Regions from separate parts of the Homo sapiens genome. Here region 1 is linked to region 2. The links come from fine-mapping of genetic effects on gene expression. A gene starts in region 2. The other region holds a variant in brackets. All regions are shown on one strand. Distances are from middle to middle.

Region 1 (2,910 bases), 66 kb before region 2:
GTTCTGGGGTGATAGTGACTTTCATTTCAGACAACCTGAGGTCTGAGCACTCTGCCCAAGGTAATGTTAGTGATGGTGAATCTATGCGGGTCTGCAGCAACCTCAATTCTTGCCTCCTCAGAAGAAAGAATTCGACTGAAGGGCATAAGGCAGAGTGAGAGATGAACACAAGTTTTACAGCGGGAGTGAAAGTTTTTAAAAAGTTTAGAGCAGGGTCAGGCACGGTGGCTCATGCCTGTAATCCCAGCACTTTGGCAGGCCGAGGTGGGCGGATCACTTGAGGTCAGAAGTTTGAGACCAGCCTGGCCAACATGGTGAAACCCCATCTCTACTAAAAATACAAAAATGAGCTGGGCGTGGTGGTACAAGCCTGTAATCCCAGCTACTCGGGAGGCTGAGGCAGGAGAATCCGTTGAACAGGGGAGGTGGAAGTTGCAGTGAGCTGAGATTATGCCACTGCGCTCCAGCCTGGGCAACAGAGTGAGACTGTCTCTTAAAAAAAAAAAGTTTAGAAGCAGGAATGAAAGGAAGTAAAGTACACTTGGAAGAGGGCTAAGCGGGCAAATTGAGAGATCAAGAGCCCTGTTTGACCTCTGACTTAGGGTTTTATACACTGGCATTTCTGGGGTCTTGCATCCCTTCTTCCCTAGTTCTTCCCTTGGGGTGGGCTGTCGCATGCACAGTGGCCTGCTAGTGCTTGGGAGGGAAGCATGCACAGTGTGTTTACTGGCGTTGTACCCATGCTCACTTGAGGCATTCTTCCTTTACCAGCTGAATGTTCCTAGAAGGTCATGTACCAGTTAAATGCTGCCATTTTGCCTCTTAGTGCGCATGCTTCAGCTTACTCGCCCAACTCCTAAGATCTTATCAGGAAACTGATGATGACCAGTTTCAGGTTTTTTCTGTTTGGAGCCTGCCTTTCCCTAGGGCTGGCTGCGACCAATTACCGTTTTAGGGAAACAGTGTAACAACCACTTGCCCACCACCTGTTGGTCTCCTGACATTCCTTGGTGGGGAGGGGGGCTCTCCTGCTGTGCTCATGCCTGACTAGCTCCCTACTGTAACAGGAAGACCAGCTACTGGCTATTGGTGTGGGTGGGGGAAGGATGGAGGCGCACACCTGGTTAGTACCAAAGATAAACCAGACACTAGGTAACGTGGTAAGGACAGATGGTAATCATAATGTACTATTGCAATAGGGAAGAGGGTCCAGCGTGAACTGAACTTTGATTTGTACAGAGGTGACTGGGCATTTTAAGGGACAATGAGGGATTAACGGAGAGGAACCAGTGGGGCTTCAGCAGAGTCAGGAAGGTGAAAACTGACAAAGGATTGACGCATGTAAATGCTGATTAGGCAGCTGTGTCTGCTAGCTGGCAATGATCAAAGTCTGGATTCTGTCCTTCCAGAGACTGGGAGACACTGGCCCTATCCTTCCTGATGATTACATTGTAAAGGAATGGTTTTTTACGTCCTTGATTGCCTTTGTAGGAGATACACAGCCATCTCAAAGGCACAGAGGAAGGAGTCACAATTGTAAG[C/T]CCTTTTTAGTAAGTACTCTAAGAAAGTGCCAGAAGCCTTTCATCAGATGGTGCATAGAATTCTTTTGTCAGTCTTGGGCTTTCTCAAGCAGGCACTCTGAGGGGGTTGAGGCCTGGTCTAGAAGGGGGCTCAGAGAGGCCTGGCTAGCATTTGGTCAAGGAGAAAATCTGTGTCATTAGAAGTGTGAGGAGGGGAGGGTGAAGGGGAAGAGTTAGGCCAGGCCTCCACCTGTTGGTTGAGAAGGCTTTTCAGGTCTTGTGACAGGGAGGAGTGATCGGGAAGCAGGTGGGCAGCATTAAAAAAATACACACACCGCTTATATATATGAAATGAAGGAAGACCACCATGTGAGAAAGCAAAGGCTGTTTATTCAGAGCTTGCTATAGCGAGGGAGTCAGCCACCATCACTGGCATTTGGGAGAGACTCAAAGGCAGGCAGGGGAGTGGGAGAGCTTTACAGCAGACACAAGGGACAGCTTCAGGTGTGCCCTGATTGGAGGCTGTTGGTCTGGGAAGCTGGAGTTAGCTAACTGGGAGCCGGCAGCCATGTGATTATTTAAGGCGCCTTTTGTGGTTGGCCTAAAGTTGGAAATGAGGACAAAAACTAGGAAAGCTGTCAGTTATTAATCAATTCCTGGTCATTTGGAATTAATTATTATAAAAGTTATTGTTTAGCTTCTCAGATTGTTATTTCCCAGACTTCTTGCAAGTCTGGCTTTAGCAGACGGGCTTGCTGGACTGTTTATTGTAGATAAGGGGCTGGTTTCCTGGGCAGGTTATGGTCACAGTTCTGTTTTTATATATGGTCTGACCATGGCCCATTTGGATCTTTGGTTTTATAATATATATTTTACCTGAAGAGGTAACATCTAAAAATGTAATCTGATCATTTTTATCATCATCATCTGAAGCGTGATGTGCTCTAATAGATGTCAAACACTGTCACTTCCCGGGAGTGAAGGCTGAGAAAGACTGAACACCAGGTATCTCCTGGGAACCCCACTGATGCCATGATCACACTTTATAACTTAGGAGGCTATGAAGGGTGAAGGGTGGGAGAATAGGGTCGCCACTTACTTTAGAGAAGGAATGCTTTCAGTGGGAAAGAACACCATCATCATTAAACATTTTTTTGTTGTTGTTTTTTTGAGACCGAGCTGCTATAATTGTTATACATAATAAAACCAGATGAGTATTTAGTAATTCATTAAGGCCTTTTGTGTCATCAATGTGTACATATATTAATGCTCATTTCATTAGTCTTGGATCATAATTCTCCTCTTTTAAATGGATGGTGGTTTATAGTTTACTTTTGTTATACTATTTGTCATATCTCAGATTTATTTGATGTTGAGTCCTTGGCCAGAA
Region 2 (2,910 bases):
TGACTTTGTCTGGAAAAAAGAGTCTTCTTTGCAGATGTAATTGAGTGAAGAATCTTGAGATGAGATCATCCTGGATTATCTGAGTGGGCTCTACATCCAATAAGTGTCCTTATAAGAAACAGACATGGAGGAAAAACACAGACAGATGGGGAGAAGGCCATGGGGCTGTGGCAGACATTGGAGCTGCGGTTTCAAGCCAAGGATTGACAGCAGCTGCCAGAAGCTTGAAAAGGCAAGGAGGATTCTAGCCTAGAGTCTCCAGGGAGAGTGCAGCCGCCTGGCTGACACACGCCAGTCCTGCCAACACCTTCATTTTAGACTTCTGGCCTTCAGAACAGTGAGAAAATAGATTTCTGTTGTTTTCAGTCATCCAGTTTGTGGTCATTTGTTACAGAAGCCTCAGGAAACTATTGCACATGGTCTCTTTTAGCTGATGCTGATGCAATATTTCCTTTGGAGCTCTGCTGTATTCTGATTCAGTGATTCTCAACTCTGGCTGAGCATTAGAATTGCCTAGATGTTTTCTAACAAAGGTTGGTTGGTGTCTGGAACATCCTCAGAGATTCTGATTCAGTAGGGCTGTGGTACAGGCTGATATTGGTGTAGAGTCAGACATAAGAATTGCCATTTAATTAGTCACAACAACTTAACATCAAGGGGTGGCACAGAGGTACAGGGGGTGGGAATACCTATATAATTGTTTCACCTTAGGAATTTGCTTTGAAACATAACAATATGTGTCTTTACATTCAAGTATATTCTTAGAAACTAGCTGAAGCCGTTTCGCATCCTTGTGGCACTAAGTCCTGTTTCCACTGTGAAACAGTTACCAAGACAGTCCTGTTTCCACTGTGAAAAAATAAATGGATGTTCTGACAGGTGGCCACCATTGCTGACCTGACCATTCTCCAGAAGCACCAGGAGGCATTGCTTTCTAGACTGAAGCTCAGTCATGCTTCACTTTAGTCTAATCAAAAAGATTTGCTTGCAAGCCTTCATTCCAAATGGTTCCAGTGCCTTCCATACAATCAGATAATGACAATTGTGAGTTTCTGGTGGCATGCTACTTCATGTAATTAAAAAAAAATTGCTGCGTAGATGTGCTGAATAGGAGAAGAGTAAGTTATTATTTGGAGGGAAGAGGATTCCCAATTGTGGAACAAAGCAATTCCTTGTACCCTGGTTCTACATAAATGTTTCTTTATTTTTGAAGTTGCATGACCCCCTGTTGTGGTCTTTTTTGCACACATGTCAGAAAGCAGCCATGAGTGCATTGTAGTTGGCAATGTGAGCTTCTGTGTAAAGGGTCTTTGACGAAGAGCTCACTGCATCTACTGACTCCCCAGGATGTCTGAGGTCACAAGTTTGGCTGGAGCACATGAGCCCAGATAAAGAAGATGGTTTTGCCCTCCTGAAATAAAGCCAGAAGTGATCTCCTTTATTGTGCACTTTGGGTCATGTGCTAATGATGAGGGTTTCTGTAATACTAATCCCCCTAATGAAGGCTTCTCCCAGCCCTTACACAAGCCCCCAAGGCCCCGTGGCTTGGCAAGCCAGAGAGAATAAAAGCAGCACGGTGTTTGGCTTTTGAACTGAGTTCAAGGCAATTAAAGTCAAGAGCTAAGGAGGGAGGGAGAGGGTTTAGAAATACCAGCATAATAAGTAGTATGACTGGGTGCTCTGTAAATTAACTCAATTAGACAAAGCCTGACTTAACGGGGGAAGATGGTGAGAAGCGCTACCCTCATTAAATTTGGTTGTTAGAGGCGCTTCTAAGGAAATTAAGTCTGTTAGTTGTTTGAATCACATAAAATTGTGTGTGCACGTTCATGTACACATGTGCACACATGTAACCTCTGTGATTCTTGTGGGTATTTTTTTAAGAAGAAAGGAATAGAAAGCAAAGAAAAATAAAAAATACTGAAAAGAAAAGACTGAAAGAGTAGAAGATAAGGAGAAAAGTACGACAGAGACAAGGAAAGTAAGAGAGAGAGAGAGCTCTCCCAATTATAAAGCCATGAGCCCCCTTTGGTGGGGGTTTCTGCTCAGTTGCTTGGGCTGCAAAATCCTGCCAGGAGCCCAGGGTCAGTTCCCCCGAGTCTGCATGACGGTGGACAGCCTAGTGAACAAGGAGTGCTGCCCACGCCTGGGTGCAGAGTCGGCCAATGTCTGTGGCTCTCAGCAAGGCCGGGGGCAGTGCACAGAGGTGCGAGCCGACACAAGGCCCTGGAGTGGTCCCTACATCCTACGAAACCAGGATGACCGTGAGCTGTGGCCAAGAAAATTCTTCCACCGGACCTGCAAGTGCACAGGTGAGGCCCATGCTCCAAGCTTGGTGGGGAGGGCCAGAGCTGGGGAAAGAGCTCCTTCTAAGGAAGAGATGAGACTCTTGACAGAGACTCTTAGATTAGGCTTTGAAAGGCAAACCAATGATGGTTTTGGTCGGAAGCATATTCAATAAGGCTGATGTGCTGGTTTATTCTTCACACCCTCTAGTACATCTAGTTATGAAGACTAAATAAATATGGCGTGGGCCAAGCCTGCTTATATGAATGCATGCCAACATACTATTGGCTTGTTTGTTGGAAGGGGAATTTAAGAGCTTAAAAGCGTCAGCTTTGAAACTCGGAGCAAGTCCTTTCAAGATGGATTCGGTGCCCTCTCCTGAAATGGGTTTGCACTTGTTGAAAAGGGATGGGTGAAGCTTGGCATTCGGAAGACAGGAGTCAAAGGCAGGTGTTCTGGTCTCAGCATTTCTCATGATTTGAACAGATCTCTCTCTCTCTCTTTTTTTTGGAGATGGAGTCTCGCTTTGTCACCGTGGCTGGAGTGCAATGGTGCTATCTCAGCTCACTGCAACCTCCATCTCCCGGGTTCAAGTGATTCTCCTGCCTCAGCCTCCCAAGTAGC

Direction of the effects. Positions count from the first base shown, and alleles are read on the strand shown. Sizes are in standard deviations (SD) of each study's normalised expression.
With allele C in place of T in region 1, the expression in hypothalamus of the gene that starts at base 1,591 in region 2 is lower (moderate effect, 0.73 SD a copy in GTEx).

What was found. PIP is the estimated chance that this variant, and not a neighbour inherited with it, causes the effect.
Region 1: its variant is the best candidate, but not a certain one, in a credible set for the expression of DCT in hypothalamus (GTEx, PIP 0.65).

Annotation. Positions count from the first base shown.
Region 1 is chr13:94,544,720-94,547,629 of GRCh38, reverse strand. It overlaps a transcript of DCT not described here. Among named protein-coding and RNA genes, the nearest start is that of TRF-GAA1-5, 3.5 kb to the left of the region's middle. The variant C/T (reference allele first, on the strand shown) is at 1,542.
Region 2 is chr13:94,478,363-94,481,272 of GRCh38, reverse strand. It overlaps DCT (dopachrome tautomerase), which reads left to right and starts at 1,591. Exons shown (of 8, transcript NM_001922.5): 1 at 1,591-2,312. The coding sequence starts at 2,018.